7 linked regions of the Homo sapiens genome follow. The protein of the gene in region 3 purifies or fractionates together with the protein of the main gene of each other region. This does not show direct contact. Each region holds a gene or a part of one and is shown on either strand. Other genes may lie near its edges.

Evidence for each region.
Region 1: the proteins of CD6 (region 3) and FRMD5 purify together in Homo sapiens (affinity purification with mass spectrometry; one large-scale study listed by BioGRID and IntAct). This does not show direct contact.
Region 2: the proteins of CD6 (region 3) and DDX47 purify together in Homo sapiens (affinity purification with mass spectrometry; one large-scale study listed by BioGRID and IntAct). This does not show direct contact.
Region 4: the proteins of CD6 (region 3) and LANCL2 purify together in Homo sapiens (affinity purification with mass spectrometry; one large-scale study listed by BioGRID and IntAct). This does not show direct contact.
Region 5: the proteins of CD6 (region 3) and TBCCD1 purify together in Homo sapiens (affinity purification with mass spectrometry; one large-scale study listed by BioGRID and IntAct). This does not show direct contact.
Region 6: the proteins of CD6 (region 3) and VANGL2 purify together in Homo sapiens (affinity purification with mass spectrometry; one large-scale study listed by BioGRID and IntAct). This does not show direct contact.
Region 7: the proteins of CD6 (region 3) and RBPJ purify together in Homo sapiens (affinity purification with mass spectrometry; one large-scale study listed by BioGRID and IntAct). This does not show direct contact.

What each region holds. Positions count from the first base shown.
Region 1 is NC_000015.10:43,873,772-43,877,271, forward strand, and holds part of FRMD5 (FERM domain-containing protein 5), read right to left. Parts: exon of another isoform or gene 2,035-3,500; intron 692-2,034; coding exon 114-691; 3' UTR 1-113. UniProt on the Homo sapiens protein: May be involved in regulation of cell migration. May regulate cell-matrix interactions via its interaction with ITGB5 and modifying ITGB5 cytoplasmic tail interactions such as with FERMT2 and TLN1.
Region 2 is NC_000012.12:12,826,846-12,830,345, forward strand, and holds the end of DDX47 (probable ATP-dependent RNA helicase DDX47), read left to right. Parts: intron 1-400; coding exon 401-530; intron 531-2,577; coding exon 2,578-2,709; 3' UTR 2,710-3,136; downstream 3,137-3,500. UniProt on the Homo sapiens protein: Required for efficient ribosome biogenesis. May have a role in mRNA splicing. Involved in apoptosis.
Region 3 is NC_000011.10:61,016,680-61,020,877, reverse strand, and holds the end of CD6 (T-cell differentiation antigen CD6 isoform 1 precursor), read right to left. Parts: intron 3,400-4,198; coding exon 3,328-3,399; intron 3,120-3,327; coding exon 2,865-3,119; intron 2,590-2,864; coding exon 2,485-2,589; intron 1,625-2,484; coding exon 1,560-1,624; 3' UTR 501-1,559; downstream 1-500.
Region 4 is NC_000007.14:55,396,337-55,399,836, forward strand, and holds part of LANCL2 (lanC-like protein 2), read left to right. Parts: intron 1-2,086; coding exon 2,087-2,294; intron 2,295-3,500. UniProt on the Homo sapiens protein: Necessary for abscisic acid (ABA) binding on the cell membrane and activation of the ABA signaling pathway in granulocytes.
Region 5 is NC_000003.12:186,560,840-186,564,339, forward strand, and holds part of TBCCD1 (TBCC domain-containing protein 1), read right to left. Parts: 5' UTR 3,491-3,500; coding exon 3,155-3,490; intron 1-3,154. UniProt on the Homo sapiens protein: Plays a role in the regulation of centrosome and Golgi apparatus positioning, with consequences on cell shape and cell migration.
Region 6 is NC_000001.11:160,421,064-160,424,563, forward strand, and holds part of VANGL2 (vang-like protein 2), read left to right. Parts: coding exon 1-124; intron 125-2,988; coding exon 2,989-3,220; intron 3,221-3,500. UniProt on the Homo sapiens protein: Involved in the control of early morphogenesis and patterning of both axial midline structures and the development of neural plate. Plays a role in the regulation of planar cell polarity, particularly in the orientation of stereociliary bundles in the cochlea.
Region 7 is NC_000004.12:26,429,014-26,432,218, reverse strand, and holds part of RBPJ (recombining binding protein suppressor of hairless), read right to left. Parts: intron 2,322-3,205; coding exon 2,166-2,321; intron 1,801-2,165; coding exon 1,697-1,800; intron 1,528-1,696; coding exon 1,212-1,527; 3' UTR 1-1,211. UniProt on the Homo sapiens protein: Transcriptional regulator that plays a central role in Notch signaling, a signaling pathway involved in cell-cell communication that regulates a broad spectrum of cell-fate determinations.

The sequences.
Region 1 (3,500 bases), on a different chromosome or scaffold from region 3:
GAGAGGAGGACTTGGTATATGTGCCGATGGTTCCGCGATGGGTCCCATTGCTGGGAATGGGTAGCCGGGTTCCTTGGTCCACCTGGCTAGTTTTTGGGAGGAGTCATGCCTTCTCAGGTGTCAATGAGCAGGCTCACCACTGAGCGGATTTTGCAGGCAAACCATCGCCTGAGGGGACAAAAGTATTGATAGTGGAATTGTTCAAACTCGGGGGTCTGGCGGATATCACGGAAAAAGGCAATGTCAAGGTCAGACTCGGTAAGGATGATCAGGAGGAGGAGCAAAACAAAGAGGAGTCCCATGGTCACAAGGAGCAAACGGAGGACACTTAGAACAAACTTATTCACCTGTTCCTCCTCGGGCCCGCTGTGCCCCTGACACAGGGCCCTCAGCTCTCCCCCAAGGGCCTCCACCTCTGTAGCAGTTGGGGTGCTGGCTTCAGATTCCTTCTCCTCCTCAATGCTGCAGGTGGCTCCATTGATCTGCCGGGAAAGCAACATCAGCTCCAGGCTGTGCTCAGCCACAGGGGTGGGCAGCACGCTGTCTGCAGGGCTGTAGGCCTCGTCTGCAATCACAGCTACTCGCTCATTGCTATCTGTCCGGCTGCTTCTCACGTGAGGCAGGAAGGTGTCCCCATGGGAAGTGGAACGCACTGGTGTGGAATGGGCACTGTCCCGTAAGGACTCTAGGCCTAGAAAGGCAAAAGGAACATGAGTAGGCTGTGTCCCAATGCACCCTTTGCTTTCCAGTAGCACCCATTGTGTTTTATTGGGTACCATTCTGCACACCCACATGACCAGCAGCAGTAGCCACTGCACTCTATTTTGATATATCGAGAAGACGACAGGCCGGGTATGGTGGCTTACACCTGTCATCTCAGCACTTTGGGAGGCCGAGATGGGTGGATCGCTTGAGGTCAGGAGTTCCAGACCAGCCTGGCCAACGTGGTGAAACCCCATCTCAACTAAAAATACAAAAATCAGCCGGGCCTGGTGGCACATGCCTGTAATCCCAGTTACTTGGTGGGCTGAGGCAGGAGAATCGCTTGAACCCGGGAGGCGGAGGTTGCAGTGAGCTGAGATCGCACTATTACACTCCATCCTCGGCAACAGAGTGAGTAAGATTCCATCTTAAAAAAAAGAAAAAGGCTGGGCGTGGTGCCTCATGCCTGTAATCCCAGCACTTTGGGAGGCCAAGGCGGGCGGATCATGAGGTAAGGAGTTCGAGACCAGCCTGGCCAACATGGTGAAACCCCGTCTGTACTAAAAATACAAAAATCAGCCACGTGTGGTGGCGGGCATCTGTAATCCCAGCTACTCAGGAGGGGAGGCAGGAGAACTGCTTGAACTTGGGAGGCAGAGGTTATAGTTAGCAGAGATCGTGCCACTGCACTCCAGCCTGGGTGACAGAGCAAGACTCTGCCTCGGGGCGAGGAGGAAGCCAGGTGTGGTAGTGCATGCCTGTTGTCCCAGCTACTTTGTAGGGGGGCAGATTGCTTGAGCCTGGGAGGTCAAAGCTGCAGTAAACCAAGATCACACCACTGCATTCCAACCTGAGCAACAGAGAAAGACTGTCTCAAAAAAAAAAAAAAAATATATATATATATATATATATATATATATGTATGTATGAAACAAGAGAAGGCACAGAAATCACAGTGGCCATTTTAGAAGAGTTTTTCTTTGCTTTTTGCTTACGGTTTTGGCCTAGTTTGTGTGTGTTTTGAGATGGAGTCTTACTCTGTCGCCCAGGTTGGAATGCAGTGGTGCAATCTCAGCTCACTACAACTTCTGCCTCCCGGGTTCCAGCGATTCTTGTGTCTCAGCCTTCTGAGTAGCTGGGAATACAGGTGTCTGCCACCACACCCAGCTAATTTTTTTATTTTGAGTAGAGACGGGGTTTTGCCATTTTGGCCAGGCTGGTCTAGAACTCCTGGCCTCCCAAAGTGCTGGGATTATAGGTGTGAGCCACCGCACCCAGCCCCTAATTTGTTAAAGATTCTGCCTTTCTTGCCTTTGGTGTCCTGGGCCTAGTTTTTTTTTTTTTTTTTTTTTTTCTTTCAGTCTTTCATATGATTTTATTTTCTTCCTTCAACCATAATAATATGATATCCAAATTTTGTCTTAACTGCTGGGTCTGTAAACACAGGCTTATCCATCACACTTATAGGCAAGGCAAATGCTGCTTCTTGAAATGGTCCCACCATGGACCCTCTGGTCATCCAACCCAAGACGCCCCCTTGCCTGGCTTTATCTTCACTATATTGTGTGGCCACTTCATTGAATCTCATCCCAGACTTTAACTTTTCCATGGCTTCCATGATTTTGCCATGTTTTTCCCATAGAATGTGTCTGACCTTTACTGCATTGCCACCACCTTTGGGACCTTGAGCCTTCTTGTCAGCACTGTCACTCCCAGAGGCTGCACCCCCTTTCCCCGCTTTTCCAGAACCACTTTTTCCTTTGGGCGGCATCTTGGAAGCTTGTTGTTGAACTCTGAACTCTGGGCCTGGTTTTTACCCCAGTTTGAAAGAATCTGAATTCCAAACTACCCCTGATGCAGAGCTGGGACCACGGTTTGAGTCTCAAGTCTGCCTGTTGGGTGGAGGGCTTTAAGAGGCAGGAATGGGCCAGACACGATGGCTCCCATCTGTAATCCCAGCACTTTGGGAGGCCAAGGCAGGTGGATCACTTGAGCCAAAGGGTTCAAGACCAGGCTGGGCAACATAGACACTGTAACTATAAAATTTTTAATAAAAGAGAGGTAGGAATGGGGAGAAGGGGAATATGTCATGCCTAACTGGGTTTCATCAAATACCGAATATCCTTGTAAAAACCCAGCATACAGCATCTTGAGCTTATAAGGTCAATATTTTTGGATTTCTGCAGCTGCTCTCAGTCTCTTCAGCCTCCGTTCTAGCTGTTCTGACTTTGTGGAATGATGGGGTAGAAACTCTCTCTGCTCTTCTTGAGGGGGCATGGGAGTAGTCCCTGGCCAGCTCCCTCTCTTTTCCTCTGAGAAGGAGCTGGGTCTAGAATAGGCTGAAAAGCTCCCCTATCTTTAGACACTTCAGAGCACAAAACAGTTTGAGAAGATCTTGTTGCGGGGGTGGATTTCTCTTACATTTGGTAGGAGGAAGGGGTATTCTATCCCCTAAAACTACCCATTATCTCTTCTCTCTTCCCAAGGTTCTCACAGGACTCAAGCCCTGGCAGGGAAAACAGGAGCTGGTTACACTCTCAACTGAACAGCAGCCACCCAGGCCAGAGGCTTTGGGCATATAGTGAGTGAGCGCGGCCCCCATCACAGTGCTCCCAAGGAAATGGCTTCTTGTTTTAGGCTCAATGTCTGCATTTTCCACTCCTGGCCATCTTGGTGATGCTGGTGTGGTTCTCTCTGCCTTTGTGACCTATGACAAGAAAAGCCAGTCCCCTTCTGTTGCCCTGAAATAGTCCCTGACAATCCCAGACTGAACCAGATTCCCAGCTCAGTAAAGGTTT
Region 2 (3,500 bases), on a different chromosome or scaffold from region 3:
CTCCTGGGCTCAAGTAGTCCTCATACCTCAGTCTCCTGAATGGCTGGGATTACAGGCACATGCCACCACGGTTGGCTAATTTTTAATTTTTTATAGAGATGGCATCTCACTGTGTTGTCCAGGCTGGTCTGGAACTCCTGGTCTCAAGTGATTCTCCTGCTTTGACCTCCCAAAGCGTTGGGATTACAGGTGCAAGCCACCATGCCTGGCCTCCCTTGAGTGATTTTCTAATGGGCTATGCACAGAGATTGCACTTAACCCATATTTAGAAAAGAAATAATATGTTCAATATTGTTTAAACCTATGGTTCCTATTGCGTTGTATCATATAATAATAGTTTGGGAATGGACAGGCATTTGCGTTACCAGGCAACCAGAGCTGTGCAGTTTTCCTTCCTCAGGTATGATGTGGAACTCTTCCAGCGCATAGAACACTTAATTGGGAAGAAACTACCAGGTTTTCCAACACAGGATGATGAGGTTATGATGCTGACAGAACGCGTCGCTGAAGCCCAAAGGTTTGCCCGAATGGTATGCATCTTTCTTTTCTCACCAGTGTCTGTGCAAACAATGTTAACTGTGTGCCACTTTATTATATTAACCCTCATACTAAACTGCAGAAGCTGGGTATTATTTTATTCCAAATTTAAGACGAGCAAACTAAGGTGCAGAGATGGTAGGTAATTTGCATTAGACCATACAACCAAATGGTTGAATCAAGGTTTGGCCTCATTCTGACATTCACACATTCACAGCACCTGTTCATGTGTCGCACGTGGTGAGATAGTTCATCAGACTTGAGGTCAGAAGATCCAGCTGTGAACTGTGTGAGCTTGGGAAATTTGCCTGATTTCTCAGAATCAGAATCAGTTTCTCACCTGTAAATTGGGAATAACACTTGCCTGAATACCTTATGGGGTTTTATGAGCACCAGAGAAGCCAATATAAACTACATAGTTACTAGTAGGGGTTGATCATACCTAATCCAAAAATTTGAAATCCAAAACCAAGATCCAAAACTTTTCTTTTTTCTTTTTTTTTTTTTTTTTGAGATGGAGTTTTGCTCTTGTTGCCCAGGCTGGAGCGAATGGTGCAATCTCGGCTCACCACAACCTCCGCCTCCCGGGTTCAAGCGATTCTCCTGCCTCAGCCTCCCGATTACAGGCATGTGCCACCATGCCCAGCTAATTTTGTATTTTTAGTAGAGATGGGGTTTCTCCATTTTGGTCAGGCGAACTTCTGACCTCAGGTAATCCCCCCGCCTCGGCCTCCCAAAGTGCTGGGATTACAGGCTTGAGCCATTGTGCCCAGCAATCCAAAATTTTTTGAGTGCGAAAAGGATTGCCGCAAGTGGAAAATTCCATGCCTGACCTCGTGTGACAGGTTGCTATCAAGACACAGTCAAAATGTTTTTAATGCACAAAAATATTAAAAATATGATGTAAAATTACCTTCAGACAATTAAAAATATTGTGTAAAATTACCTTCATATATAAGGTATATATGAAACAAGTGAATTTTGTGTTTAGAGTTGAGCCCCATCCCCAAGATAGCTCATATGTATCTGCAAATATTCTAGAATTAGAAAAAATCTGAAGTCCGAAACACTGCTGGTCCCAAGCATTTCAGATAAGGGATACTCACCCTGTAAGTAGTAGTAACAGTAATAGTGGTGATGAGAAGATTCTAGAGGAAAACCATTGGAAGTGCTGCCTGCTTTCTGGAGTTCTGGTCTGAGGGATGGAGAAACTTTGCCCATAGTTTGTTTTTGGAGTAGCTGAGGTGCACATTTGGTTTTTATTCTGTCCACATGGGATTTTTTTGTTTGTAAAAGTATTACATGTGCATTGGGAAAAAAATTCAAAAAATACAGAAAGGATTAAAGTAGTAAGTGAAAAGGTAAACCATTCCCCACAGAAAACCATTGATAACATTTGGCTATTTTTCTTTCTTTAGCCATAATTAGACTTTATCTAATTATATAGGATTAACATTTTTCTGTTTCAACAAATACAGATTCATGTGATCGTTTCTTAATGGCTACAAAGAATTCCATCATGTGTATGAAATACTTACATTCATGGATGCTTACGCTTTTTTCCAGTTTCTTTCTACTTTGGTACAGTGTTAAACACCCTACTTTGTACAGCTTTGCATATTTACTTCCTTAGAATAAATTCCTAGAAGTACACTTGTTGGGCCAAGGGACATACACAGTTAAAATTTGAATTCATACAGAATGCCAAATTGTCCCCCGCCCCAAGAAAAGCTATAGCAGATTGCACTATAAATGAGAGTATATGTGAATTTTTCTACACCTTGGCCAATACTGGGGATTACCCTTCTCTTAAGTCTTTGCCAATCTGCCATGTGAAAATAAAACCTTACTTTAGTGTTCACGTTTTGATTACTAATAAGGTTAACATCTTTGTATATTTGGAGTTGGGTCTTGTTCCTTTGCTAATGTCAGGCATCAGCAAGTTACTTGATACTTGATCTTAAGGAGAGGGGACTAGAATGAGTAACCTTCAGTGCCAGTAATTCATTTTCAATCCCATCCTCTCTTTTTTTCTTGCAGGAGTTAAGGGAGCATGGAGAAAAGAAGAAACGCTCGCGAGAGGATGCTGGAGATAATGATGACACAGAGGGTGCTATTGGTGTCAGGAACAAGGTGGCTGGAGGAAAAATGAAGAAGCGGAAAGGCCGTTAATCACTTTTATGAAGGCTCGAGTTCTGCTGTTCTGTAAAAGAGAATTGGAGAATGAAACCTGCTCCAACAGAGATCATGAGACTGAAATTGGTCAGAATTGTGTCCAGAATGTGCTCAGCTAATTCAGTATTCTTCCCCATTCTGGGTTGGAGTTTACTGCAGAGTAATTCTTACAGTGCTGATGTCAAGACTGTTACTGTTCTTCGACTTTGATTCCTTGCTCATGACATGAGTAGGGTGTGCTCTTCTGTCACTTCACACAGACCTTTTGCCTTTTTTAGCTGCAAGTCAAGGACTAGGTTGATGATGCCCATGACCTGTAATTGTAAAGAAGCTTGGACATCTGCAAATGATATTTAAACCATCTTGGCTTGTGCTTTATTCAAACTAATGTGAAACAATAAATTTAAATATTATTTTTAAAAGATTCTAACTCCTTAAAGACCTTGGTGTTAAAGGGCCTTATAGATTTAAGTAAGATCTTGTTAATAGGTAAGAACCTGACAGTGTTGATTACATGGCAAATTCATTGGTTGTCCTAATTAAGATAAATATTTATTACTTAAAAAAATCAACAAGGAAACGAGATGATGGATGGCTTTGAAAGGGAAGCCCCAGCCGGGTGTGGTGGCTCACGCCTGTAATCCCAGCACTTTGGGAGGCCAAGATGGGCAGATCAGGAGGTCAGGAGATTGAGACCATCCTTGGTAACACCGTGAAACCCTGTCTCTACTAAAAATACACACACAAAAAAAACATTAGCCTGGCGTGGTGGCGGGCGCCTGTAGTCC
Region 3 (4,198 bases):
CCTGGACCATTCCCATGGAAGATGGTTCCTTATAGCATGTGCCTCTGACCCTCTGCCTGTGGCTTCTCCCGACACAGCGTGTGCCCAGCTCACTCACAGGCCGCTCGGTAGTGCTGGGGCTGGGGGTTAATGTCTCCTCAACCAATGACAGGCAGAGAGGGTGGGTCAATATCCCAGCTCCCTGCCCCCTTGGTGGGACAATTCTGAGGTGTGTCTCCCAGAGGTCCCCAGCACCATTGAGCTCTGGCTGCCCATAATAGCAACCTGTTCATGAACATTGTCTTCCTTCCTTCCCCCTCTTTCTTCCTCATTTTCTTACTGCTGCTCCCTGGGATTACTTCCCAAATAAAAGATTTGAGCTCAACTCTTTGTCTCATTTGTATCCAACATATGCCACACACACACACACACACACATGCACATACATGCCACACACACGTGCACACACACATGCAGCCTGGGTTCTATGAGGTTTAAGAAATTGTCATTCCACGCCCTGGTTTCATTCAGCAATTCAGTTTAATCTCAGGATACTCAGAGCAGGACAACAAAGCCTGGTCTGAGCCCATGGGCCTCTCTCTGGGGGCTGCACGGAGACGTTTGCAGCCCCGGGTGCAACACCACATAGTCACGCATCCCTCCCAGGAGCATCCTCATCAATTCAAGGAGACACATGGGGACTCGGGGCCTAGTGCAGCTTCTGAGCCCCTTCCTGGAAAACATCTCTATGCTCCTTGCCCCCATGGAGACTGGGCCCCTATCTCTGGGATCTGTGGTGGGGCTGGGCTGGGGCCCTCTTTGTAAACCATAGGAAACTCAGAATAAAGACCCATTGTCCAGGGACAGTCACTGCAGAACTGGTCTGTGCCCCTGGCGGACTTGGAGTGTCTCTGGGGCAGGACTGGCCTTGGGCCCCAGCTCCTTGGTTGGGGGTACACAGTCAACCTGTCATTGTCAGCTAGTTGTGCCCAGGAAGGCTATATTCCCTGCCCAAGTGCAGTTACCGCCCGGAGCAAAGCCTGGGACAGCTGGTGTGCTACCCTACCCCCCCAGCGCCCACCGATCAGTGACAACAGCTCAGCAGACCCTAGTATATGGGCCCTCCTGCAGCAGCACTGGCATGGGGGTCCAGTTCTGCCCCTCGCAGGACCTCTGGGCCCTGAAGTGTCAGAAACTCAGGCAATCAAAGCGCCGGACACTTGAGGTTTGGAAGGGGCCTCCAGAGTCATCCAGTCCAGCTCCCCAACTCCCCTCCACCAGCTGTCAAGAGGTAGCCCAGACTCTGCTTGTTCATCCCCGAGACAGAGGGCTCACACCTCTTGGAGGCAGCATCCTCCCTGGGGCTGCTATCTGGGGCCGGGGGAGGGCTGTGGCAGCAGGTTTGGCTTGATGGATGGAGACCGAGGGGTACAAGGTATAACGTTTCCTTCCATCTCTCCAAGGGAGGCCTCTCAGCTCCATGGGGAGGTGAGCTGGGAGGGTGGGAAAGGGGAAAGGGAGTAGGTAGAGCAGGAGGCCAGAGGGTCAGAGCCACCCCAGGAGCCTCGGCTGGCCCCGGCCTAGGCTGCGCTGATGTCATCGTAGTCATCGTTGTCGGTGGAGTCAGGCTGAGGGCTGGGGGACCCTGTGGGCAGAGAGGCCCAGATTAGTGGGAGACCCAGTCATTGCCCTGCTGCCCCACAGGACGGAGCTGAGTGGTTCTGGCTCCACATCACTATCCCCGTGGGATGCTGCATGAAGCCATCTGATCATCTTGCTTCCGGCCATGTCCCTGACTAGAACATCAGCACTGAGGGAATAGCCTCGTCTGTCTGGTTCAGGGCTATGGTCTCCACAATGGCACACTGCACGACACGGTGGACGATTGAATGTTGGAAGCCCCTCTGCTACCACAGTCTCCCCCAAGGAGCCAACCAGCTGCTTCTGCTTGAATGCCTCCACTGACAGGGAGCTCACTTCTTATCAAAGCAACCTGTTTGACTATTTCTCCATCCCGTCCACATCCATTTTCCCCACCTCTTCATATTCTTGTTGTGCTTGTGTTTGTTTTCTTGTAGAAAGAGGGTCTTGCTCTGACCCTGCAGGGGCATGATACACAGTGATACGATCATAGCTCACTGCAGCCTGGATCTCCTGGGCTCACACGATCCTCCCACCTCAGCCTCCTGAGGAGCTGGGACTATAGGCACGTGCTACCCTTGGCTAATATTTAGTTTTTAGTTTTGTAGAGACTGGTCTTGCTATGTTCCCGGGGCTAGTCGTAAATTCCTGGCCTCAAGCAATCCTCCTGCCTTGTGCTGGGATTACAGGCTTGAGCTACCATGCCTGGCCTTGCTTTGTTTTTTAAAAAGTTACTTTCCCTCTCTTCTTTTACCCTTCCTTTCTCCTTTTCCCCTTGAGCGAATGCATCCAATAGTTCCCCACTCATTTACTCCCCAGTCCCTCTCTGTCCCCCTCCCACATCCCTTCCCCAGATATTGGCACCTGGACAGCCAAACTGCTCCTCCGAAGGGGGCTGGGGTGGTGGCTGGAAGTTCTGGTACCACTCCCCGGATGAGGTGCTGGAGCTGTCATCAGCCGGGGGCCCTGCTGGAAACCCCCAGAACCAGTCACCCTCTGCCAGCACACAGCCACTTCTCAAGTTGCCAGAGCTGGGGGGCCCACGTGACTCACGAGAGCCAAGTCCCTAGCTTGGCAAATGACAAAGTGAAGGCCCAGAGATGGGAGATGTGTCCAAGGGCACACAGCGAATGGCTGCGGAACTGGGTAGAATCCTGACCTCAGCCTGACTCAGGGCTCCCAGCTTTATGCCTCCTCCAGCCAGGCTGGCTATGGGATGGGGGTTTGGGGGAGGCACAGCTTACCTGAAAAGGCTGGCTGGGTGCCGGCCAGCTCCAAGTTTGGGGGCTGCTCCAGGAAGGAACTCCTCTCTGAAGAAAACACCTGGGGGTTCCATGGAGGCAGCTTGCTTTTGGGACTATTGCAGTAATCCTCCCCTGAAGAGGTGCTCGACTCACTGTTGCTCCTCGGGTGATACTGAGGGCCCAGGGATGGCGGGTCTGTAATGCAGTGTCCAGGGTTGGCAGTTGGGATGTGGGAGGCATGCAACTCTTCAAGTCCTAAGGCAGGAAAGGGAGAATGGTGACGAAAGAAGCAGTGCAGCAAGAGGGCTTTAAGTCAGACTTCAGAAAGCACTTACTGCCTATAGGATTTGTGAAAGTCAGGAAAGACTCATTGAGGGAGGTTCCTGCTGGAAGGTCTCAAGCTGAGCTGAGCTACTCTCTGGAGGTGGGACTGCCATTCACACCCCTTCCCATCCTGACTCACCTTCCTCCAAGGGTGGCATCTGGAACCTGCTTTGCTGGACCTCCTCATCTGTGACCCGATGCCGCTGGGAATCTGCAAGCAGAGGCGGTGGTGGGGAGGGGTGAAGGCTCAACCTCATCATTTAGGAGCCTGGAGAAGAGGCTGGATTTCCCGGGGCCTGGGTAGGCTGAATAGGGTGGGAGGACAACTCCGGAGGCAGAGAGGGCTTAGCATTTCCCATCAAATTCCAGGTTCATATCCCAATCCAGCAGAGCCTTCGCCTTAATCTAGCCTGGGGACAGAAACTCTAGTGCCCTACAACCCCCCAGCCCCCAGCCCCAGCTGTCCCTCCTGCTACTTAGAGAGGTATCAAGAGTCTTGGTTCTGTCCTTGTGACCTGGCAGCTCTGGGCAGGAGAAGGACAGATGTTTGCTCCTTCAAGAAGCCTTCCTAGAGTGAAACCCAGATGGTCTGGAATCACTGCATCACAGGCTCTGTGGCACCTTCACGTTTCAGAATCAGAGATTTATAGAGTCTTGAGGATATGAGTGTCTGGGATCTTGGAGTCAGCTCTTTTGAACCGGGTACCACTGACTTTTAATTTCAATGTTATAGCACTGTGGACTCTCAGTCTTGCATCTTATATGCCTGGGCTCGGAATCTCAGGTTCGACAGACACTTCATCCCTGTGGCGCCCAAACACTGGTCCACAGGCCAGAAGAAGTGGAATCATCCGTGTCCCACCCCCAGAAGCCCTGGGTTAGCAGGCGGGGCAGGGACGGCTGTCTGTTCCCCAATATCCATTCTGGCTTTTATCTGGACACAGCTGCCCAGGACAGAGCCTTCGTTTCCCTGCCTCTCTTGCAGCTAGTGGGTTTTCGTTCTGGGTGCT
Region 4 (3,500 bases), on a different chromosome or scaffold from region 3:
AGTTCTTGACAAGCCCTGCCCTCTGGAGAAATTGCTTCACCGGAGCCTCTCCTGCAAAGGGTTTATCGCAGCCCCGCCTACCCGGAGCAAGGGAGATGCCTAGCTCCAGCTGGTTCTAGCTTTCAGCATTGGGGAAGGGAGATGATCAGCTGCAGCTTCTGCTGGCCATCCTGGCCAACTGAGGGCGTGGGGATGGGAGGCACTGGTGCAGTTCACAGTCCAAAGGCACAGGCTGGCCAGAAGGTTGAGCCTGCTCACAGGCGCGTGCTCCCCAGCACCTCCCACCACATCCCTAAGGGCCTGTTCATTCCAGCTCCTTTTACCTAGTGCAACGTGTCCGCCTGCCAACAAAAAACGACAAAGCATGATGACCTTTTTTTTTTTACTTTACCTTTTACCATTTGCTTTAAAATACTGAAGCATTAAGTATATATAACTGTAAGTTTTTAGGTTCATAGGTTAATCAGATCAACATCCTATTTTTAGAGATTTCTGAGTAAATCAGGGAATACTCATTTGTAAGCCTTTATAGTGATTATTATGTTTGAAATTTGTAAGTATTTAACTTTTACTGTCTGTTTCCTGTATGCTTATATTTTTTGAATACAGAAAACATGCTCTCAGGGAGATGATAAGCAACTCATGCTGAAGAATTTTTTTTTCAGAGCTTCCAAATATTCTACTTTCATATCCGTTTGACTCAACATCTTTAAAGAAATGGATAATGATGAAAGACTTCAAAAAGTGTTAAGGATTAATTTGAAAGAGAAGTTATATACCCTGAATAGAAAAATTGAAGAAAGAAGAAGCTAGATATTTGGAGAAATTTAAAAAGCAAAATGAGGCTGGGTGCAGTGGTTCACGCCTGTTAATCCCAGCACTTTGGGAGGCCAAGGTGGGCGGATCACGAAGTCAGGAGTTCAAGACCAGCCTGACCAACATGGTGAAAACCCGTCTCTACTGAAAATACAAAAAATAGCCAGGCATGGTGGCATGTGCCTGTAATCCCAGCTACTCAGGAGGCTGAGGCAGGAGAATCACTTGAACCCGGGAGGCAGAGGTTGCAGTGAGCCGAGATCGTGCTGCTGCACTCCAGCCTGGGCAACAGAGCAAGACTCTGTCTCAAAAAAAAAAAAAAAAAAAAGCAAAATGAAAAATAGTAAAAGCAGAGTAGGATATTATTAGACAAAGACTAGAATATTGAAGAACCTCAACTTAAACATGAAAGAAATATTTCATTTGCCCTTTTCACCAGCATGTCATCTCTGTCAATGTTGGTTCCTATAAAAGACTTCAGTAAATACATATTTATACTGATTCTTTTTTTTTTTTTTTTTTTTTACTTAGCTGTCATATTGTCTTCTCGAACCCAGATGTAAGGACATGCTTCTTTAAGAAGCCATATAGGCCCTTCTTTGGAGATTCTCAGATTCATTTGAAGACCTGAGTCTGTTCTTTATCTAGAATGGAAAGGTTGGTGGGTGGTGAACCACACACGCCCTTTGTACTGATCACCTTACTCTGTACTGTGTGGCTGCTCCAGAAATGGCGAGTTCACTCACCAGTTCATTGGTCAGTTGTAGGGTTGTTCACTAAAGAACATTGAAAAATTGGGAAAAATAGAAAAAAAAATAGGAAGAAGGGAGTATAAAGTTCAGAAAAGCAATCATTTGGGATAACATAGGAGAAATGATTTTACAATAAGTAAAAAGAAGAAGATCCAAGTTAGGATCTACAAGGGAGAATGAATACAACCTTGGAATGAATGAAAATTAACTGAGGATGAGTAGGAAGTGATGTATCTTCTGTTGTCTGTGAATAAGAGGTATTAAATCACTGTGCCAGGACAAGCACCAAGATAACATGTACAAACATGGTTTCTGTTCTTTCCTCCCTGATTTCTCTGTCTTGGTTTTATTTTGTTTATTCATTTTTAAGAAATATATGAAATGTATTGTTTTGGTGTTACCCGTTTGGAAACATAGATTTATGTAGAAGAAGGTATTTCATGTAATTATAAATAATGTCCTGAAGATAAAAGGAAAAGATAATAATGCTTTTCTTTTGGGGTGGGAAATTATTCCAGGCATAGCCCTTTTGTACCTGCAGTTGTACCGGGTCACATGTGACCAAACCTACCTGCTCCGATCCCTGGATTACGTAAAAAGAACACTTCGGAATCTGAATGGCCGCAGGGTCACCTTCCTCTGTGGGGATGCTGGCCCCCTGGCTGTTGGAGCTGTGATTTATCACAAACTCAGAAGTGACTGTGAGTCCCAGGAATGTGTCACAAAGTGAGTTTTAGAACTGGAAACATTTTCTCCCAATTCCCAGTGGAAGCTCTTGCTGTAGAAAGATATTCAGAAAGGAAACTATTTTTCCATTCATCCATTGTTGTAAACAGATCACTCCAAAATGTTAATCTTGAGCATAGTGGTGGGATCATATGCCCTCTTTTTATCCAAGCATGTGTGTGCCTTAATTTTGGGAAGAATAAATATATTTCCTTATTTTAACCATGTTTCCTAAGCAATTTTTTGTTTTCTTCAATGCATGAAAATTAGCTTACCTGCTTTAGATTCACCATAATAACTAAACTGATGTTAGGTTCAACCCTTAAGTAACTGATTAGATATGCTAATGATGGAACAATTAGGGAATGTAAGCTTTTATTGCACCTATTGGTTTACGTTCTTCCTTGAAGAAGCAGAAATCACGGTTCATTCCTAGGGTCTGGTAGAGTATCTGGCACGTGCTAGTCAGTTAATGTTTGTTGAAAGATAGGATGACGCTGGGTATAGTGGCATGTGCTTGTAGTTCCATTAACTTGGGAGGCTGAGGCAGGAGGATCACTTGAGCTCAGGAGTTCAAGGCTGCGGTGAGCCATCATCCTGTCACTGCACACCAGCCAGGGCAACAGAGCAAGACCCTGTCTCTAAAGAAAAAGAAAGAAAAAAAAAAAGACAGAATGACAGTCTAATTCCCAAGCATTGGTGACATTGCAGTCCTTTTTTTTTTTTTTCTGAGATGGAATTTCGCTCTTGTTGCCCAGGCTGGAGTGCAATGGCGCGATCTCAGCTCACTGCAACGTCCGCCTCCTGGGTTCAAGGGATTCTCCTGCCTCAGCCTCCAAAGTAGCTGGGATTACAAGCATGTGCCACCACACCCAGCTAGTTTTGCATTTTTAGTAGAGACGGGGTTTCACCATGTTGGTCAGGCTGGTCTTGAACTCCTGACCTCAGGTGATCCACCTACCTCGGCCTCCCAAAGTGCTGGGATTATAGGCGTGAGCCACCGTGCCCGGCCTGCAGTACCATTTTTATTTAAATTTTAAATCACTTTCTTTTACTTCTGGATTTCAAAATAAAATTTTATGGTTTAAAATAGATGTAAAGGTAGAAATTAACAGAAAGATGTTTTGTTTTTAATTTTGACATTCAAAAGGGGACTAGTAAACTGGAGACGTTTTTGTTGTGTTCTGGATTTGGGAGTATTTTTAA
Region 5 (3,500 bases), on a different chromosome or scaffold from region 3:
CTAATTTTCCACAAGGGTGTCAAGAATACAAAACGCAGAATAGTCTCTTCAATAAATGATGCTGAGAAAACTGGATCTACAAATGCAAAAGAATGAAATTGGGACCATAGCTTATACCATACACAATCAACTCAAAATGGAGGAAAGACTTAAATGTAAGGGGTGAAATGGTAAAACTCCTAGAGAAAAATAAGGAAAAAGCTCCTTGACATTGGTCTTGGTAATGATTGTTTGGATATGACACCAAAAGCACAGGCAACCAATGCAAAAATAAGTTGAATTATATCAAACTAAAAAGCTTCTGCACAACTAAGGAAACAATCAACAGAAGAAAAGGTAAACCATGTATCTGGTAAGGGGTTAATATCGAAAATATATAATGAACTCCTGCAGCTCAATAGCAAGAAAAACCAAATAACCTAATTAAAAAATGGACTATGGACCTGAATAGACATTTCTCCAATGAAGACATACAAATGGCCAACAGGTATACGAAAAGGTGCTCAACATCACTACTCATTAGAGAAATATAAAGCAAAACCACAATGAGATATCACCTCACACTTGTTAACAAAAGATTAACAAGTATTAGTAAGGATGTGAAGAAAAGGGAACCCTGGTACACTGTCAGTGAGAATGTAAACTGGTACAGCCATTATAAAAAATAGGGCCGGGCGCGGTGGCTCACGCCTGTAATCCCAGCACTTTGGGAGGCCGAGGCAGGCGGATCATGAGGTCAGGAGATTGAGACCATCCTGGCTAACATGGTGAACCCCATCTCTATTAAAAAATACACAAAACTAGCCGGGCATGGTGGTGGGTGCCTGTAGTCCCAGCTACTCAGGAGGCTGAGGCAGGAGAATGGTGTGAACCTGGGAGGTGGAGCTTGCAATGAGCTGAGATCGCGCCACCGCGCTCCAGCCTGGGCGACAGAGCGAGACTCCGTCTCAAAAAAAAAATAAATAAATAGTATAGTGGTTTCTCAAAAAATAAAAAAGAGAACTACCATACGATCTAGCAATCCCACTTCTGGGTATTTATCCAAAGGAATTGAAATCAGGATCCTGCAAATACCTGCACTCCCATGTTCATTGCAGCATTATTGATAATGGCCAAGATATGGAAGCAGCCTAAATGTCCACAGATGGATGACTAGATAAAGAAAACTTGGCATGCATATATAATGGAGTACCATTTGGCCTTAAAAAAGAAAGAAATCATGTTGGGTACAGTGGCTTATGCCTGTAATCCCAACACTTTGGGAGGCTGAGGTGGGAGGATCACTTGAGGCCAAGAGTTCAAGACCAGCCTGGGCAACACAGTGAGATCCTGACCTCTATGAAAAAAATACAAAAATTTGCCAGGCATGATAGCACACACCTGTAGTCCTAACCACTCAGGAGGCTGAGGTGGAAGGATTGCTTGTGCCCAGAAATTCCAGGCTATAGTGAGCTATGATTACATCCCTGTACTCCAGCTTGGGCAACAGAGTGAGATCCTGTCTCTTAAAAACAGAAAGAGAGAGAAATCCTGCCATTTTCAACAACATGGATGGACCTGGAGGACATTATGCTAAGTAAAACACGCCAGACACAGAAAGACAAAGCTATGTAATCTCACTTATATGTGGAATCTAAAATAGTCAAACTCATAAAAACAGACAGAAGGGTGACTGACAAGGGCTAGGAGGAGGGGGAAATGGGGAGGTTGATGGTCAAAGGCTACAAAGTTTCCGTTATGCAAGAAAATTAAGTTCTGAAGATCTACTCTACAGCATACCGCCTAGAGATAACAATTACATGTTGTATACTTAAAATTCTCTAAGACAGTAGATCTTATGTTAAGTGTTCTTAACAGATACACACACAAAATAACAAGCATAAAAGAGGAGGGGGAACCTATGGGGGGTGATGGGTATGTCTATGTCCTTGACGGTCATGATGGTTTCACAGCATATACTTATCCCCAAACTGATTGAGCTGTATACATAAAATAAGAATTTAAAAAGAGACATCATGAGTTTCCTCCATTCTGTTGATCTTCCCTTCTGTTATAAGAATGGGAATGATCTACACAGAAGCTATTTCTTTAGCCTGTGTCCCTAAATGGGGAAACACGGAGCCTGGACAAATGCCATAGCAAAAATGAAGCCCACATGTAAAATGGGCAAGAAATAAACCTTTTCCCCTGTAAGCCACTGGAATTTCATTTGTTTGTTCTTAATGAATGAAATCAGCTTTTAACAAAGCTGATTAACAGTGACTCCAAGTGATAGAAGCATGGATCCCTGGTCATCGCTTGGATGACAGCAGCCCAGAGATTTGTCCAACCAGGAGCAACTGTGTTAGATTGCTGCCTGAATGAGAAATAAACTGTTACTGTTCTAAGCCACTGAAATACTGGGTTGTCTATTACTATAATCAGCCTACTTGATTAATATACTTTCTCTGTGAAGTCTTTCCTTATCACTGAAATAAATCATTCTTTATTCAATTTCTGTACTTTGTGTATTCTTTTATTATACATATCACACTATTAAATAGCATCTTTTTTTAATACCAGCTTCCTCTACTAGTCCATAAGCTCCATGAGGGTTGAGATGCTATCCTAATCATCTTTGAATCCCATCATGTAGCAGATGTTCATTTTAAAATAGTCAGGTGCTCTGACTGTAACATATCAGTTGTTCATAACACTCATTCACCCCAAAATCTTTTTAAAGTCAGTAAAATATTTCCCTTTTTCAATAACAGGGTCTCTGTAACATTACTGCTTTGGGAGTAGGTGAGTAAGGTCTGGTAAGTAAGGACTAATTCATTGAATACATGAAATACTGCCAAACTGGAACTACTAAAACTCAAATGATAACTTGAGATTACAATGGCCATTAGCCTAAAACCTAAAATTTTACAGCTAATACAAAAATTAAGAATGGTTTATTGGGCCAGACATGGTGGCTCATGCCTGTAATCCTAACATTTTGGGAGGCCGAGGCAGGAAGACTGCTTGAAGCCGGGAGTTCAAGACCAGCCTGGGCAACAAAGTGAAACTCTGTTTCTATCTAAAAATTGTAATAAGCAAAAACATTTTTTAATTTAAAAAAGAATGGTTTCTTTCCAAAAGTAATTAAGTATACACACATATCAATCCGTACCTGATTTCTCTGCTTTTCAACTTCCTCCTCAGACATGCAGTTGGACAGAACCTCAGACCATTCCAGGCGCTCCTCAGGTGTCTTCATTGAAAGACTATCAAATATTTCGAAGTAAAGCCACGCCAGGTCCTTGGCCAACTGCAGCTTCCCACAAGCGATGTGCCTCCATGTAGACCAGTAGAGGCGCGGGTAAGCTCCTTCTGTGGCCCGGATTTGCACATAGGTGGATATCTTCCTGAGATAGTGAAGACTAAACTTGGATGGAGGGGGGACCTGCAAGGCACCCACTATAAAGGGTTCTGCTTTCACCCAGAGGAGAACTCTGGACTGATCCATATTATCTCTA
Region 6 (3,500 bases), on a different chromosome or scaffold from region 3:
ACAACTCCACTGGCCAGTCTCGGGCTGTGATTGCAGCGGCAGCTCGGAGGCGGGACAACAGTCACAATGAGTACTACTATGAGGAGGCTGAGCATGAGCGAAGGGTGCGCAAGAGGAGGGCCAGGTGGGTCCCTGGGGGAGAAGAGGAGAGGAGGTGCTTGTTGGGTGAATGGGGAGAGGAAGACCAAGGAACTTCTGTAACTGCTGGAAATATAGGGCAATGATGACATGAGTTGGGGGTGTGTGCTTGTTTTCCGTTGCTGCCCTAACAGATTACCATAAACTTAGCAGCTGTGAAACAGCACACATTTATTATCTCCCAGTTCCATGGGTCAGGTGCAGGCTGGCTGGAGGCTGTGCTCAGGCCTCACAGGCTGAAATCAAGAGGACTCTCATCTGAGCCTATGCTTTCTCTTTCAAGCTCATTATTATGGGGAGAATTCAGTGCCTTGTCACATAGCCCCATAGGCAGTTTACATGATGGTAGTGCACTTTTTTTTCCAGCAGAAACAGGTCTCTGACCTCTGCCACCAGCTGGAGATAATGCTGATTTTAAAGAGCTCATGTGATGAGATCAGGCCCTAAAGGACAGTCTTCTTTTAAGGCCACTGACTTGGCACATTAATTACATCTGCAAAATGTACCAAGATTGTTGTCTAATGAGGGGATGGGAGTCTGGTAGAAGTGGAGGGTATCTTTGAATTCTGCCTGCCACAGTGGGGTAGGGACCCAATAAAGGGATGTGAGCTTTACCTGCAACAGCATGGACTCAGGCTAGACTAGCCTGCCTGCCAGTAGATCTTGAGAGGACTCACCAGATGGTGCTTTTGTTGCCTTCAAAAAATGACGTTTTATTGCCTATATTTTGGTAAATTCTTAAATGCCATCCTAGCTTCTCCCTTTCCCTATTCATATTATTAAGTGAATTTAGTCAACCCTGAAGAATCTTACTTGGTGCCTACTCTGCCGGGTTCCATCTTGGTCTGTCGGGAGTTCCCTGAGGGAGGAGCAGAGTGCCTCAGGACTTGACCACGCACCTGGCCTCCGCCCCATCTCCCACATGAACTCCAGGCTTCAAGGGCAAGAGGTAGCCCTTACCTTGTTCCTATTTGAGGCTGGCATCCCCTGTAGTAGAACAAAGATCACCAACTCCATTTCTGTGGCATTCCAACCTGTCTCTAATTGTCTTGGAAATGGCCTGAGACTTGGGAAGGAAACCAGTGATGTCCCTACCCCTTTATCTTCTGCCCTGACCAGGGTCATCCAATCTCCTGTACTGCCACCACCATTTTTGGCACATAGAGGACTCTTTCCTTTCCCCATTACCTTGCTTTTAACCAGGAGCAAACTTTTTCCTTTGTTTACCTGAGATAAAAGGATCTTTTCAAAGGGAATTTACTGAGAAATGTAGGGGAAGCAAGAGAATAAAGGAAGAAATGATAGACATACACAGATCCACACCTATATACCCAGAGTCCCATCTGAAATGACTCAGGTTCCTGGGTTCTGCATAGAAGGCCTCACTTTCTTTCTTTGTCCTGTCACTTCAGGCTGGTCCTGCTCTTAGGCCAGGGGGCTTTTATTTTGGTTTTTGGACTTGAAGTGCAGATAATTGCATTAATTGCTCTTTTCAGCTTCTAACATATTGTCATTATAGAGTTTTTCATGGTTCTTTATTCTGTTTCTTCTTTTCCTCCAGTTCCCACTTTCACTCCAGCGCCACATTTTAGGCATCCTGTTGAGTGTGTTTGACTTCCTTAAAAGCTATATGTATCCTTGTGCAAAGTTAGTGTTAGTGTAGTGATCTTTGTTGGTGTTGGTGTGTGTGTCTGTATGTATGCTTTTTTTTTTTTTTTTATTGAGATGGAGTCTTGCTCTGTCCCCCAGGCTGGAGTGCAGTGGCATGATCTCAGCTCACTGCAACCTCCGCCTCCTGGGTTCAAGTAATTTTCCTGCCTCAGCCTCCCCAGTAGCTGGGATTACAGATGCACACCAGCATGCCCAGCTAATTTTTGTATTTTTAGTAAAGATGGGGTTTTGCCATGTTGGCCAGGCTGGTCTTGAACTCCTGACCTCAGGTGATCCACCTGTCTCACCCTCCCAAAGTGCTGGGATTATAGGCATGAGCCACCACACCCGGCCATCTATATGCTTTTAATGTAAATGGATTTTTTTTTCCTGCTTCCTCCTTAACACTGTGTTTTTGAGATTCATCCAAGTTGTCTGTACATCTAGTTTGTTGCATCTTTTTGCTGCATAGTAGTTCATGGAATACTCCCAACATCCTATCCAATATTTGGTTTATAGTTACCTTCTTTCTTTTTTCCATTTTGATGGAAAAGTAATATTTTACTAACATTTTCATTTGCATCTCTCTAATTGCTAGCCAGTAACTACTTCGTATATCTTTTAGCCTTTCAGTCCTCTTGTGAATTTTCTGTTCACCTCCTTTGCCCTTTTTTCTCTAGGTTTCCTGTCTTTTTCTTCTTGATAGAAATTGTAGCAAATTCTTTGCATGTTCTAGATCTGAATCCCTTGTTGGTTTTAGATGTGTATATTTTCCCCAGCTCCATCAGATGTCAGTTAATGTTGCCCATGCTGTCATGGTTGAACAGAAATCTGTCATTTTGATGTAATCATATCTATTAATTGTTGAGCCAATGAAGTATGATTTGGGGGTCTTATTTAAGAAGGTTTTCCTTAAAGTTTGGTGGAATGCTTTGTCTTTCCTATAGCATAGTTCCTAGTTGTCTCTCTGGGTTTGACACTAGGTTTGCCCTCTGAGTCCCTGGGCTGGGCCCACTGAACTCTGTGGCTGTTTACTGTTCCCAGTGGCAGAAAGGCACTATTGCCTCTGGCTTTGTATTACTTTGGGTGAGCACAAAGGCCTGACCTCATTCAGGCTGCTGGAGTGTTGGAGCTAGGGGAGAGGGGTGGGGTGGGGGAAAGAGAGGTGGGCATCTGGCCCAGTCCCCTCCTGTCCCCTAGGCTTGTAGTGGCGGTGGAGGAGGCCTTCACTCACATTAAGCGGCTGCAGGAAGAGGAGCAGAAAAACCCCAGGGAGGTGATGGACCCCCGGGAGGCAGCCCAAGCCATCTTTGCATCCATGGCCCGTGCCATGCAGAAGTACCTTCGGACCACCAAGCAGCAGCCCTACCACACCATGGAGAGCATCCTGCAGCACCTTGAATTCTGCATCACGCATGACATGACGCCCAAGGTAGGCCTGCCCTGCTGCCAGCATCCTTCCTCCTTCCCCAGCTCCTCTTCTTTCCCACCTTCATTTTCCCTTATTCTCTCACTACTTTCCTCACTGTCCACCTCATTTCTCTCTCCTCACCACCTCCTTTTTATAATCTTCTCTCTCATTCCTATTCCACCTGCCCCATCTGTGTGGGGTGAAGTCTTTAGGTAGATGAGGAGAAGGGAGTCCTCAGGACCATTTTGGGGATGGCTGAGACTTATTTCTCATCTCTATGAGGGCTCCGGAATTACCAGAT
Region 7 (3,205 bases), on a different chromosome or scaffold from region 3:
ACATGCTTTTGCGGACATTTTCCTCATTCTACCATTAAGGGCACCATCTACCAACTGGTAGCAAATACTTCCCATATTTTTTGTCACTTGCCAACAAGGCAGAAAATACCCTGCTGAATGAAATCACTGGGAACATTCCAAGTTCAAAATAAAATGTTTAACTTACACATAATACAAGTTATGTACAAGATTAGGAGGGGGGAAAAACCTGAACAAATCCTGGAACACACCTATGTATTTACGTCATGGGAAAAGGGGAGAGAACACTTCAAATATCAACAAGTTCTGCGCCATTAACTCATTAATAGCTAAATGGCCACACCAAATTGCATGTGAATGTTAGAACCTCTCAGATAACCACAATAAGTCCATATTTTTTTTTAAAAAAAGGAAAACACAGAAATAACTACCAACAGTGTCTGAGAAGAGAGACTAAGTTAACATACATTGCATGTATTGCAGGCAAGGCAGAGGCATTTTTTTAAAGCTTTTGCACAGACTTCATATAATCTTAAAAAAAATATGCAGGCCTTTGCAAGATTTGACTTGCTGAAATCCAAACAATTTTGACTCATGAAAAGTCATAAGACTTCAGCTGAAAAAAAAGAAAAAAGTTCCAGCCTTAGACCAAAAAAAAAAAACCTGGAAGAGTATGATAGATTAAACAAGGATGGTCAGGCTTGGAACCTGAATGTATTTTAGAGCAAAAGCTCAAAGGTGGGTGGGGAAGAGAACAACCTATTTGGTAACAAGGTGTACTATAATACCGTGATATAAAAAAAGGTATGGTGAAAATGTACCTTTTACTAAAGCTTATACAATATACAAGTTCCTTGGTCCATAAAAACTATGTTAGATTTGTGTCTTCTAGTTTGTTCAACTTGTATTCCAGCCACATTATTTACTTCTTGCCCATTTAAACAAAACCAAACAAAAACCAACCAACCAACCAACAAAACAGCTGAAAAACTTGATTTCCAATATTTATACATTTTGATTTTTTTTTCTTTTTTTTTTTTTTTTTTTTTTTTTTTACTGTGGCTTCTGCATTTCAAATCAGCACTTGCAGGGAGACAACGGGGTTTTTGAATAGTATCACCTGGTATGAAAAGTTTTCCCAAGAAACCACAAACGATTGTTCATTTTTTCTCCTTTTTTGTTAACTTTTTGCCACACTCAAGTCAGTTTAAGTCCTAGCAAAAAGACGGTAGTTAGGATACCACTGTGGCTGTAGATGATGTGACACTGGTTGAATTTGTGCTGGCGTTTGTGTAACTTCCCTCGCTGTTTGTGTTTGATTCGTTAGGGGGCACCTGGCTTGAATTGGCTCGAAGGATTGCTCCTGCTGCACTGCAATGTGGCCGCGGCCCTGGTTCTGGTGTGTAGGTAAAGGTAAGGCTGGTGGAATAAATGATTCCATCATTTCGGACCAAAGTTACTGGAACCTGGACTGGTTGCCGGACCCATCTCCAACCTTCTCGGAATGCAGAAATGTCTGGGACGACACAGAGCATACTCTCTCCACACCTGAGGAGGAAATAGAAATCACTTAAAAACACTTTAAAAAGCAAAGTACATGTTAAAAATGAGACTTAACACAAGGTTGTTTAATACATTACAATCAGTGCCAGGAAAGAATCTCCTGTACCCACACCCCTCACAACCTCTGGATGATGCAAAAAGTTTTATCAAGTACCTGTACATAGTTTCAGCTTCTACATCCCCAAACCACACTCGTAAATTTGGAGTGAAATTCTGTCCTGTAAGTTCAAGCATTGCTACGTCCCCACCGCCATTCAACTGCAATTCACAGAAAATCACAACACTGAGAAAACTTTTCATTTTTCATTAAAGTACACAAATTAGATTCTCATTCAACTTTCATTTGTTTTTTTTAAAAAAGGGCAATTAAAATGTTTTTTATTACAAAGCTAGCTAAAAACATTTCAAGATAACATACAAGTTTATTTACATTTAAATTTTCTGGCAAGTACGCTCCTCCTAATTTTGTTTTTTTTTCTTTAAATCAACAAATGGTGTATATAAAAATCCCCTAATCAGACGATTGGAGAAAAATCAAAACTCCCATGAAATGAAATGATGCCAGGTCACAGCTGAGAGTAGCTGCAAAGAGCTGAAGGCCAACTTGGACTAGGCGTTCTCACCTGAAGGCTCTCTACCACAGGCACAGGAGTGACTGGGGCAAGGACAGGGCCCATTCCCTCATAAAATGTATACTCTGCCTTATCTGTGCTAATGATTGTCCAGGAAGCGCCATCATTTATCATCTCTTTATTTGGTTCTTTTGGACATGGAGTGGCCTAATAAAGAAAGAAGTTTAGAAACTAAGTTTTATACAGTTTGTATTAATAGGATAAGAAAATTTTACCAAGTAACCCTCAGACAAGAGTTAATAAGAAGATAACTCAGTAAAAACTTATAAACTTTCTAAAGTATGGTGCTTTGCCAATCCCTACATAAACACAAACAGAATGCTAATACAGAAACCCCATAGACAGCAGTTTTTCTTATAATACAAACTATTTCAGTGACATATTAAATAATAATACCTTTCAGAACAACCATTATGAGTATACCAATGCAGGTACAATTTCATTAACAGCAGATCAATATCTGTGATGTAAATGGCTGTTTAAAACTCTTCAAGGACTCCTAAGAAAGACAATGGGACTCCTCATGCTTAGGCAACAGCTAGAAGCTTATGCATGTTCCATGGGAGGGAATCAAGATGGGAAGGCAAAGCCCCTACCCCTACCTTAACACACCTAGACCAGGGACTCAGCATGCCCATCAGTGTGTATGGGCATCTCTCTGCAAAGGAGTTTCACATGAAACCATAACTGTCTTATTAAATCATCTGCCCATGTCATAACCTCATGAAAGCCTTCTGAGTAAATGTAAAACATTAGCTTTCAAAGCATGTCATCATTACTATCTTCGGAAACCACGACATAAATCTGATGAGATTTTGAGCCTTCACCCAGAAAAATGCTTTGTCTATACAATGTTTGCACACAATTTCAGAGGATTCAATGAGCACTGAAAATCTATTTTTGGATATCCTGAGGGGCTCTTTGTTCTTCAATTAAGAACCCTGGAACTAGATGTTAACTGTTTTCTCTGAGAACATTTTCATAATTTTGAGTTCTTCCTTGAGGAAGGATTGCTTGCATGTCTGAGGATT